Regions from separate parts of the Homo sapiens genome. Here region 2 is linked to region 1. Evidence: fine-mapped expression QTL. A gene starts in region 1. The other region holds a variant in brackets. All regions are shown on one strand. Distances are between the middles of the regions.

Region 1 (5,238 bases):
GTTGGTACTCAATAAATGTCACCAGCTAACCAGTCATCATTACTTACTGAGCCTGGCTGATGACCCTGAAAAGAAACTCTGTTACTAGGGAATTTCCAGCAGGCGGAATTATCAGGAAGGACGGGGCAAATGGTACCTGAGGTAAGAATCCTGTAAGAAAAAGATGCCGGAGGAGAAACTGATGGAGACACAGGTCACAGAAGGAAGATGAGGAATCCAGGAGAAGGTCATGCTGGGCCCTGGGGACATAGTAACCATTCAGTCCCTGCCCTCAAGGAGCTCATGGTCTGTTGGGGAAATAAACAAAAGCACAATTTTGTACAGAATGAGGCTGCAGTAAACCATTTTCTCCTACCACCCTTTCTTTACATGGCTTCCAAGATACCATCAACTCACCCAGCTTTCTACTTATCTTTTTGGCCTTCCTTCTCCATCTGGTTTGCTGCTTTTCCTAGTTTCCTCAAATTCTGAATATTGGAGGAAACTATTTTCCAACTACATTCACTCCCTTGGTGATCTCATCCAGTCTCATGACTTTAAACACCATCTACATGCCAATGACTCCCAAATGATCTATCCAGCCCAGATCTCTGCCCTGACCTGCAGACTCATATGCCTTCCTGCCGCCCCAACATCTCTACTCTAATGGGCATCTCAGACTCAACACACTCAAACCTAAGCTCCCTGTCAAAAAAAAACCAAACCCCTCATCACCTCCCCATTCCTTCCCAACTCAAAAAAGTGGCAACACCAATCTTCTAGTCGTTCAGCCCAAAAATCGTGGCTCCTTTCTTATTCTGGCATTGTCCATCTGTTAGCAAACCTTGTAGTCTCTACCATCTAAATAAATTCAGAATTCAACCACTTCTCATCCACTACCTCTAGATTATCATAATAGGCTCCCAAATGGTCTCCCTGCTTCTGCCATTGTCTCCCCTACCCCAGTCTATTTGGAGAACAGCCAGAGTAACTCAGTTAAACTGTAAATCAGATTGTGTGGACCCTGTGCTCACAACCCTCCACTGGCTCCCCAACTCCTCATCTCCTACCTATTACTCTCCCTAGAGGACACTATGCCCAAGCCATTCTAGGCCCTCTGCACTTGTATTCTCTCTCTCTGAAATGCTCTTCCACAAATATCAGAAGGCTCTCTGCTCCTTCAGACCTTTACTCAAAAGTCACCTTCCCAGTGACTTTGGCCCCCCAGTCTGAAATAAAACACCTCCCCTGCAAATATTTTATTCCCACTTCTCAGATTTATTTTTTCTCTTATTTACTGCAATCTTACAACTACATATTTTATTTATCTATCTTCTTTATTGTTTACCTCTCTCAGAATGAAGGCTGCATGAAAAGAGGGACTTTTTTGGTCTGTTTTGTTTACTATTGTATACCCACTACTAAGAATAGTGATGGACATATACTAAGGCACTCAGTAGGTATTTGTTGAATGAATGAAAAAGGTAGTCATTTCCAAGAGGCAAAGTTTACTCTTTAATGAAAAACTATAACAAACAGTGCTATTTGGCAATATAATCACATTCAATATGCACAGTACACGACCTCTTGAACAATTCTTATCCAATCTTCACATCAGCCCAGGATAGAAGGAAGGCTGGGCAGAGATTATGATGCTGGTTGACAAAGAAGCTGAGTCCAGAGAGAGGAAAAGGAATTGCCAAAACTCACACATCTGGCCAGGACAGTACTGGAAATGCGGATAACTGCTGTCCCTGAAAGAGGCTGGTAAGTGATGGAGTTTAATAGGAATTGGGTTTGAAGGACCTCTGTTGCCAGAAAGCATGAGTATCTCTAAAGGCGAAGCTGAGTCAGAGGTTACTAGAACAGAGGCATCAGCAAAGGATGGGAGAGGTGACGAGGGCGATCTCTAAGTGTACTTGGCCCAGGCCTGAGGAGGGCAGCTGATTCCCCCAGCAACAGAATGCTGTGCCTGAGGCTAACTAGTCATTCAAGTCTGTACATAATCTCCAATGTCAAAACTCAACAAGCAACCTTAAGAGAGACCACTAAGTCTACTGCATGTCTGCAGGGTTTGGCTTCCCTGGACTGTGAGGTCTTCCAGGGAAGCGACCATATTCCTAGATTTATCCCCAGTTTCTAGCAAGGCCTGGAATATAGTAATATTGTAACTCTAATATTTTTGTTCAGAGCAAAAATAAAAAAGAATGAATATGCTCAAACGGGAAACTGTAGCTGAGAGAGCACAGATAGGAGGGGCCTAACATCAACCAGCAATTCTGAAGTAGTAACAGATTAGTTTTCTGGGATGCAGCAGGACGAATGGCCCTCGCACTAAAAGGTTGCTGTCAGCTCTTCTTCAGAAGGGGTTAACAAGCAAATGGTGACTGGCAACAAAAGGGCAGGGGTTAAACGGGGCAGTGGTTAAACGAGACCGTAGTGCTGGCGCCAGGATGGAGACGCCGACTGGCTGAGACTCAAGGCGGGGCAGATAGGTAGGCGCGGCACACTTCCTTCCCTAACAATGTGACTAAGGTAGGTCAACGTCACATCCGGTTTAGTGGGCGGGAGCGGGGAAAACAAAAGGAGACGAAGGACGCATGCGTTTGGTGAGTCCCGGATTCTGGTGGGTTCTTCCGCTCAGGCTGGGTGAAGCGCTTCCGGGTCGCCGCCGGCAGCAGCCTCCCGGCGCGGTAAGTACAGACGCAAGGCTGCAACCGTCTCCTTGCCCCTTCATTCCTTTTTCCCCCAGAGAAACCCATTTCCTTTGACCCGACTCCCCAGGAGCTCCATATTGAGAGTCCTTAACCCTTAAAGAGCTCCAGCTCATTGGCCGCTTCCTCGAGACTAAGCCCCACCCCGTCACACAAGGTCCGTCATTCATTGGTGTCACTTCCTGTCACCCAGCATTTCTTTCAGTTAATTGGTCCTACCCAGGCCCCGCTTTTTTCGCGTTTAGCAACCCTATAAGGCCAAATTTCTGTCTGAGACCCGCCCTGCTTTCTTTCTGTTGGTCAACTGCATGGTCATTATCGTAATGAGCAAAGAAAGGGCGGTGGCTTTGCGACGGTGGGTTGGGCTTTCGGAGCCGAGATCGCTGGTCTGTCAGTACTTCTTGGACATGAGGGTGTTTACCGTCGTGCCTAATTACGCGGGTTGGGAATCTGAGATACAGGGAAGGGCAGCGGCTGGCCCTGGGTCGGTCAGATAAATTAAGACAAAAGCAGGACCAGGCATCGATTATTTTCTCCTGCTCATCCCTTTCACGGAGGAATTCTAAGCCCCGACACACTGTATGACCTAAAGCCAGTCTCTGCCTGTCGCTGGGCCTCAGTTCGCCTGTCCTAAGTTTAATTCAGATTATCTGGCACTCCTGGTCGGCTCCCTCAGCCGCTCAAAGCTGATTGTACCCTTATAATGTTAGTTCATCCATTCAATCTTCCATCTACTTATTTATCCACTTATTCATGCCTCCTAGAATGTCTTACTGAACCCTGCTTGCATATGCTACAATCCCTCCACCCCGACATTTGGCTGTGATTCATGAGAGGTCGTTAGTGTCCTAAATTTCTGACACTGGGTGGGTGTGGTATGGGCCATCATAAAGGGTCAAAAAGCAGGTTTTAGTGTGTGGAGGAGGTAGGGATAGTTTCAGTAGAACCCTGCTACCTCTAATTTTGTATAATTTCATAATGCCAGTCTGCATTCTGGATTCCTATCCCTACACTTGACTCCCATTCTCATCCCTCCTTGAACAGCCTGCAAACAGCTTTGTTGATCCATTATTTACTTAATTATCAGAATAACTTTGACAGTGGTATAATTGTTATTATCCCCATTTTACAGATGAAGACACTGAGGCTCAGAGAGGTTAAGTGACTCAGCCAAGGTCAAACAGCTAGTAAGTGGTGGAGCCAGGACTCAAAGCCAGGTCTGTCTGATTCCTAGGGGGAGGGGCTGCTTTCCTGCTGTCTTCCACCCTATCCCTAAATCAAATTACAACCAAATTAAAAACAAAAACAAAGCAAAACACATTCACTTGACCCTTTCCCTCAGTCTAGGAGCCATGTCCACTTTGTTCCCCTCACTCTTCCCTCGTGTGACTGAGACTCTGTGGTTTAATCTGGATCGACCCTGTGTGGAAGAGACAGAGCTGCAGCAGCAGGAACAGCAGCATCAGGCCTGGGTGAGTGAGCAGCTAGCACAGCACAGAGACCTCAGCACAGACAGAGACCTCCTTCAGTGGGCCATGACCCAGCCTTACTCCAGAAATCTACCCAGGAAGAGCTTTTTGCCCTGAGCTGGGAATAATCGGGCTGGGAGCCAGGGAGCCAAGGTTCTCATCTTGTGGTACCCTATTTTACAGGGGTACCATGTGACTTCTGGGCCAGATTAGAGCCCAGGCTGCTGACACTCAGCCCAAGCTCTTTTCCCTAAAGCACAGGAAATAATTTTGACTATTAATTGAGGATCTAGCAGATGATGCTTTCTAGGCTGATAAGTCTCTCACTTCATCCTCACCATAATTATACAAAAAAAAGAAGGCTCAGAGAGTTTAAGTATTTGGATCAAGTTCATAAATGGCAGATGACAAGAAAGGGATTGTATCTCCCTGAGAACTGGGAGGAAGCTTCTCCCCAACACGTGTGGGTTGTCTTCTGGGCAGAATGGGCCAGTCCCATGCCCCTGACCTGCCCTACTTGGGCTCTGGCCTTGTTCCTCTGTGCCTTTGCCCACAGCTCCAAAGCATCGCGGAGAAAGACAACAACCTGGTTCCTATTGGCAAGCCAGCCTCAGAGGTGAGTGGCTCTAGCAGGTGGGGCCTGTGTGGGGGCCGCAGTGGACCGAGGCTCTGCTCTAATTCTGAATGTCCTGTCTCTGACCCAGAGCAGTTGTGGTTCTCAGATCTGGGTAAAAGCCTAAAAGGGGAGATAGAAGGGGTGGGCATTGGGCCTAGCATTAAGGTCCTGCAGAACATGCACCAGCCTGCTAGACTCAAGGAGGGAGTGTCGGGGTAGGGGGTCATTCATTGGCCCTAGAGAGAGGCTCAAGTGGGTCAGTTCTTGAACTGGTCCATGCAGGCCTGTAGGGCTTACAGGCTCTGTCCTGCCCACCAGCACTATGATGACGAGGAAGAAGAGGATGATGAAGATGATGAGGATAGTGAAGAGGACTCAGAGGATGATGAGGATATGCAGGACATGGACGAGATGAATGACTACAATGAGTCACCGGATGATGGAGAGGTCAATGAGGTAG
Region 2 (5,501 bases), 230 kb after region 1:
GCCAGTACAACTGCAGCTCCTAGCAGCTGTGGCACAGCTACTCTCCCATCTGCTAACCGAATCCATCCTTCCTCCATCACTTGTCCTTCCCTCTACCTGGAGAAAGTCCTTTTCTTCGTTAGAAGAAGTAGGTCCCAGATCAGGTGCTTGAGGGAGCCCTGATGCCCAGAAGGGGGAAGATGCTGCTTTTCGAGCCTCTGAGTCAGCGCGGGAATTCCGCAAACCCAGCCAGGTGGAAGCTCGCTGGTGTCCCCTGCAATGCATAACTGCCACCTTGTGGGGTTTCCATACTGCTTCTAATCATTGCAAGATTTCTTGTTGATATTTTCTGTCTCTTCCCTAGAATTCAATAGGCCCTTTTCTTTCTATCACGCTCCATGAACTTGAAGGGTTGAAAAGACATACCTAGAATCAGTGTAAATGTTGACAGTCTCACCCTCACTGAGTTCTAAGGCCCGAATGAAAGCAATGAGTTCAGCTTTCTAGGCTGAAGTGGCCTGGGGCAATGATGTGGCTTCAACAACAGTGTCCAGGGTTACCCCTGCATACCCTCCACCTCTCCTTGGGGGTTGAAGAAGCTGCTCCCATCCAAGTATAGTTCCCAGTCTACTGATGCCCAAGGCTGGTCCCAGAGGTCAGGTCTGCTAGAGTCAATTGAGTCCAACACTTCTACACAACCAGGCTTGACAGGGCTCTTTGATACCGGGAGCAAGGTGGCGGGGTGGAGGGTGTTACAAACTTCAATGGTTATACGGGGATTTTCACAGAGCAAAGTCTGGTAGTCGGTGAGTGTGGCATTCGTTAGCCAATGATGTCCTTTAGTATTCATTAAAGTCACGACAGCACGGGAGGCCTTAATGTTCAGTTTTTGCCCAAGAGTCAGCTTATTTGCTTCTTGTACTAGCAGGGCAGTTGCTGCCAAGGCCCTCCAACAGGGGGGCCATCCTTTAGAAACCCCGTCTAGTTGTTGAGAGAGGTAGGCCCCCAGCCTCGGCCTGGGCCCCACAGTCTGGGTTCAAAGTCCAGCTGCCATCTTTTCTCTCTCTGATGCATATAATGGAAAAGGCTTTGTTAGATCGGGTAGCCCCAGGGCTGGGGCTGCCAGAGGTTTTCCTTTAACTCATGAAAGCCTTGCTGTTGTTGGCATCCGCATTCCAAAGTTTCCCGGTCCCCGCCCCCTTGGTGACCGCATACAAAGGCTTGGCTAATACTGCAAAGTTTGGGATCCATAGTCTACAAAACCCCACAGCTCCTAAGAATTCTCTCACCTGCCTTCAGCTCTTAGGCTCCGCTAGATGGCAAATGACCTGCTTTCTTTCTGATCCCGGGCTGCCTTCCCACCCCTGTCGGATAGTCAATCCCAAGTAACATACCTTCTGTCAGCAGATCTGAGCTTTCCTCTTGGACACTTCTATCCACAGTCCTCCAGGTGCCGGTGTAGGGCATCTGTTCCCTTGGCACACCCAACTGCCGTGGGGTGTCCCAGCAGAAGGTCATCAACCTACTAGAGCAACACGCAGCCTAGGTCTCTGCTGGGAAACTTCTGGAGGTCTCGAGCCCACGCCTCCCCGAAGATGGTGGGGGAGTTCTTGACCCCTTGGGGAAGCCCGGTCCAAGTGTACTGAGTAGTGACACCTGACTCCGGATCTTCCCACTGAAAGGCAAACAGCTTCTGCCTCTCAGGGGCTAATCTGATAGGAAAGAAAGCATCTTTCAGGTCCAAGCAGGTGAACCAGCTGTCCTCAGCTGGCGGGAACCCCAACAATGTGGACGGGTTAGGTACTGTTGGATGGAAAGTCAGTTTAGCTTGATGAAGCAAGCGCAAATCCTGTACCGGCTGGTAGTTCTTGGTCCGTGACTTGGGAACAGACAGGAGGGGAGTGTTCCATGGAGACCGACAAGGAACAATAATTCCAAAAGTTCTTAGGTGCTTGAGATGGACCTGGATACCTTGAAGGGCTTCTCTGGGGACCGGCCCCTGTTTTTGCCTCACTGGCAGGGCCCCAGTCTTAACTGGCCAATCCTGGAGGGTTGTCTTCTGCCCATACTCTTGGCCACCGCTTAGCCAGAGCTGGTCTTCTCTCTTGGCCTGGCTCAGTTCAGAAAAGTCTCCTTTCCTCCTCTCGGGGGACCACAAGTGTCATAATGACTCCCGTTCCTGGTAACTTTAGCAGCAAAGAGCCGTGCTCTGTCAAAGAGATAGTGGCTCTCAGCTTGCTGAGCAAGTCCCTTCCCGAAAAGGTCAAGGGACAGTCAGGCATGTACCAAAACTGATGAATGACTTTATATCCTCCTACAGTACAAGTGCAAGGCAAGCAGAAAGCTTGCTTTGCTGAAACCCCCGTGGCTCCGATGACGTCAATAGTCTTTTTGGATAACCGGGCGACCGGGGCGGTTACTAGCGAATGTTCAGCACCGCTATCTACAAGAAAGTCAATGTCTCCACCCCCGACTGTCATTGTGACCAGAGGCTCAATGGGGACGCTTGAGTCTTGTCTCCCTCAGTTCAAGAACCCTTCTGCCAGGTTGAGCAGGGCCCCTTCCTCCTTGTCCGGGGCCTCCTGCTCTGAGTCACCTTGTTTTCTTTTGAGCTGAGGGCATTTGTTCTTCCACTGTCCTATTTCTTTACAATCAGCACACTGGTTATGCTGCAAACTCTGACAGCCAAGCTGAGTTTCTTTCCCAGGGCCTCCCTTCCCTTGCCTCTTTGTGGGGGCCCCTCTGATTGCTGCAGCTGACAAACAGGTCGGCATATCGCCGGGCCTGACCTCCATTCTCTTTGCCGTTTTCCTTACGGCTTACTGCATCCCTGTTTACAAACACCTGGCTAGCTATTTCTAGTAATTGGGATGGATTCATCCCTGCAAGCCCAGCCTGTTTCTGCAGTTTTCTTCTCATGTCTTCTG[C/G]GCTTTGACGGACTAAAGCCATGGGAATCATGCGCTGATTTTCAGGGCTATCAGGATCAAAGGGAGTATACATACGATAGGCCTCCCACAGTCTCTCGTAGAATTGTGTTGGACTTTCTTCTTTACCCTGAATGTCCTCAGAGAGCTTGTTAACGTTTGTGGCCTTCTGAGCTCCCCTCATTAATCCTTCCAAGAGAGCTTCCCTGTCTCGGTTTAGCCTTTGCATATCCTCTCTTTCATGTGGGTCCAACTGGGGGTCTGTTCCTGGCAACTGGGTCCTTCCATACTCTTGGGGGTTTTGATAATCAGCTGGTGCATGTTCCTCTAGCCACTTAGTTGCTGCTTGAGGACTCTCCGCCTTTCTTCGCTGTTAAAGAGGAACATGAGCAACTGGTGCCAATCAGCCCAGGTGGGGTTGTGGGTCTGGATAACAGTTTGGAGCAAATCAATTAGGGCTTGTGGCTTTTCGGTATAGGACGGTGTATTGTTTTTTCAGTTGAGAAGATTGACGCAGGTGAAGGGCTGGTACCCAAAAACACGCCTCTCCACCACGTGACCATCCTCATCTATCCCAGTCTACGGCTGCTCTCTCAGGGGCATTTGTGTCCCCTTTTGGGTCGTAAACGAGCTGCCGAGGGAGGAGTGGAATGGCGCAATGCGACTTACCGCAATTAATAATCTCAATTATTAATTGACACTAATAATTATCAATATTAATAACCCATAATATTTTTAAAAATCAATACCGATAATAATGATAATTAATATTAAATAGTTATACTAATGGTAACAATACATGATTAATATTAATGATTAATGATGCCTGATATTAATAACTGATATTGATCTTATTCATTAGAAAACAGTAATATTAGCTCCTAAGAATTAATATTAATATTAATAATCTGAAAACTTTATTAGCAATTATTTCTTAATATTAATATTAATATCGGTCATTCATATTCATGTTAATAATAAATGAGGTATAATTCACACTAATATTACTCCCTAATACCTCAGTGGGTGTACACCCACCTGTGATATTGCTCCTAATGTCCAGGGTGGGAGAGAGCATGATATTACGTTCAATATCGCAGTAGGTGTACACTCAGCCGGTGATATTGATCCGAATATAATCTCCAAGGGGTGGAGTATGATGTTACTCCCAATATAGCACTGGGTGTGCATCCACCCGGTGATTTTGCTCCTAATTCACAGAAGAAGAAAATGCTATTACTCCCAACATCGCAGGAAGTGTACACCCCCGTGTGAGATGGTCCTTAATAACATTCCAAAGCGGAGGGGCTGATAGGACTATATATATGGCAGAAAGTGGACACCACCAAGGATATTGTTCCCATGATCCTGGAGGGAAGAATGTGATATTACTTTCAATATCACAGAAGGTGGACACACCCCCACTGATATTGTTTCTAATTGCAACTTGGGAGAGGAGGATATGACACGCGATATCCCAGGGAGTAGAAACACCCCTTTGATACTGTTCTTAATATTCAGGGAGGAAGAAGATGATATGACACCCAATACAGACGGGTGTACAATCTCTGTATACCCAGGGTGTACACCGGTTTGTGAAACAGTTCATAATCTCCAGAGCGGGAGATGATATTACTCACAATTTGATAAACAGGCTGTGTATCCACCGCGGATCCTAAAAACCAGGGGGGCAAGAGGGGCTGGCTCTTACTCCCTGCATCGTGGGGGGCTCCTCATCCCCCTGCAATGGGGGTCCTAAGAGTCAGAGGGGCAAGAAGGGCTGGCTCTTACTCCCAGCATCGCTGGTGGTGCCTCACCCCCCTGCGATAGGGGTTCTAAGAGCCAGGGGGGCAAAAGGGGCTGGCTCTTACTCCCCGCATCGGATATAGTACTATGGGTGAAACAACAATGTGGCTGTGGATGTAAATTAAGGGAGTAAATGTTAAAATGCACAAATGAAAATAGAGTGTAAGCATTTATAAAATTTATATTCATTTTCACCTGACCATCTAAACATGCAATTATAATAATTTTCATCTATCATGTTAATTATTCATAGATAAGAGAGTTTAAGACATGTTTTTTCTCCTGGAGTCTGAAGAAGATGGAGTTAGAATTTTCACCACTTCTTTTGTCCATCAATTTGAATGATCTTCAGTTTGCAGCAGATGCTGAAGTCAGCACAGTATCTAATTGCATGTTCATCAGCATTGCACTTCAGTCTGCAATGATAATATTCTGAAGGACATTCATCATTAGAAGTGAAGCTTCTGGCTTTAAAAAGAGAAGACAAATTATATGACACAATATTACTTACTTTTTATGTTTAAATGTCTGAAATGTTTTATAATAAATTAAAAGCATTACAGAACTTTCCCAGAAAAACAAAAACAACAGCAAAAGAATGCAAGAGAAAAAGTGGAGATGCTGAATAAAGACAAACGATGATTTCTTCTGTAAAGAGAGTAGTAAATGAGGCAGTAGTTGGAAATGTACAGAATTTTAAATGAGAACTATTACCACATATTTCTACCTAAAATGAATTATCCAGCTTGGGGGTGGTGTAGAGATTCATAATGCAGGAAATAATGTTTAATT

Evidence for each region. PIP is the estimated chance that this variant, and not a neighbour inherited with it, causes the effect. A credible set is the group of variants that fine-mapping cannot tell apart.
Region 2: its variant is the best candidate, but not a certain one, in a credible set for the expression of ANAPC15 in whole blood (INTERVAL, PIP 0.54).

Annotation. Positions count from the first base shown.
Region 1 is chr11:72,110,084-72,115,321 of GRCh38, reverse strand. ANAPC15 (anaphase promoting complex subunit 15) reads left to right here and starts at 2,627. Exons shown (of 6, transcript NM_014042.3): 1 at 2,627-2,672; 2 at 3,826-3,910; 3 at 4,036-4,165; 4 at 4,719-4,778; 5 at 5,097-5,234. The coding sequence starts at 4,046. It overlaps LRTOMT (leucine rich transmembrane and O-methyltransferase domain containing), which reads right to left. Exons shown (of 9, transcript NM_001145310.4): 9 at 4,540-5,238. RefSeq lists enhancers at 1,744-2,281, 2,589-2,648, 2,749-2,808, 2,282-2,819, 2,979-3,148 and 1 more and a silencer at 2,401-2,618.
Region 2 is chr11:71,884,083-71,889,583 of GRCh38, reverse strand. DEFB131B (defensin beta 131B) reads right to left here. Exons shown (of 2, transcript NM_001242853.1): 2 at 5,023-5,177. The coding sequence ends at 5,023. XNDC1N (XRCC1 N-terminal domain containing 1, N-terminal like) reads left to right here. Exons shown (of 6, transcript NM_001375847.2): 6 at 4,963-5,501. The coding sequence ends at 5,145. The region is part of intron 6 of XNDC1N-ZNF705EP-ALG1L9P (XNDC1N-ZNF705EP-ALG1L9P readthrough); the gene reads left to right. Among named protein-coding and RNA genes, the nearest start is that of DEFB131B, 8.4 kb to the right of the region's middle. The variant C/G (reference allele first, on the strand shown) is at 2,907.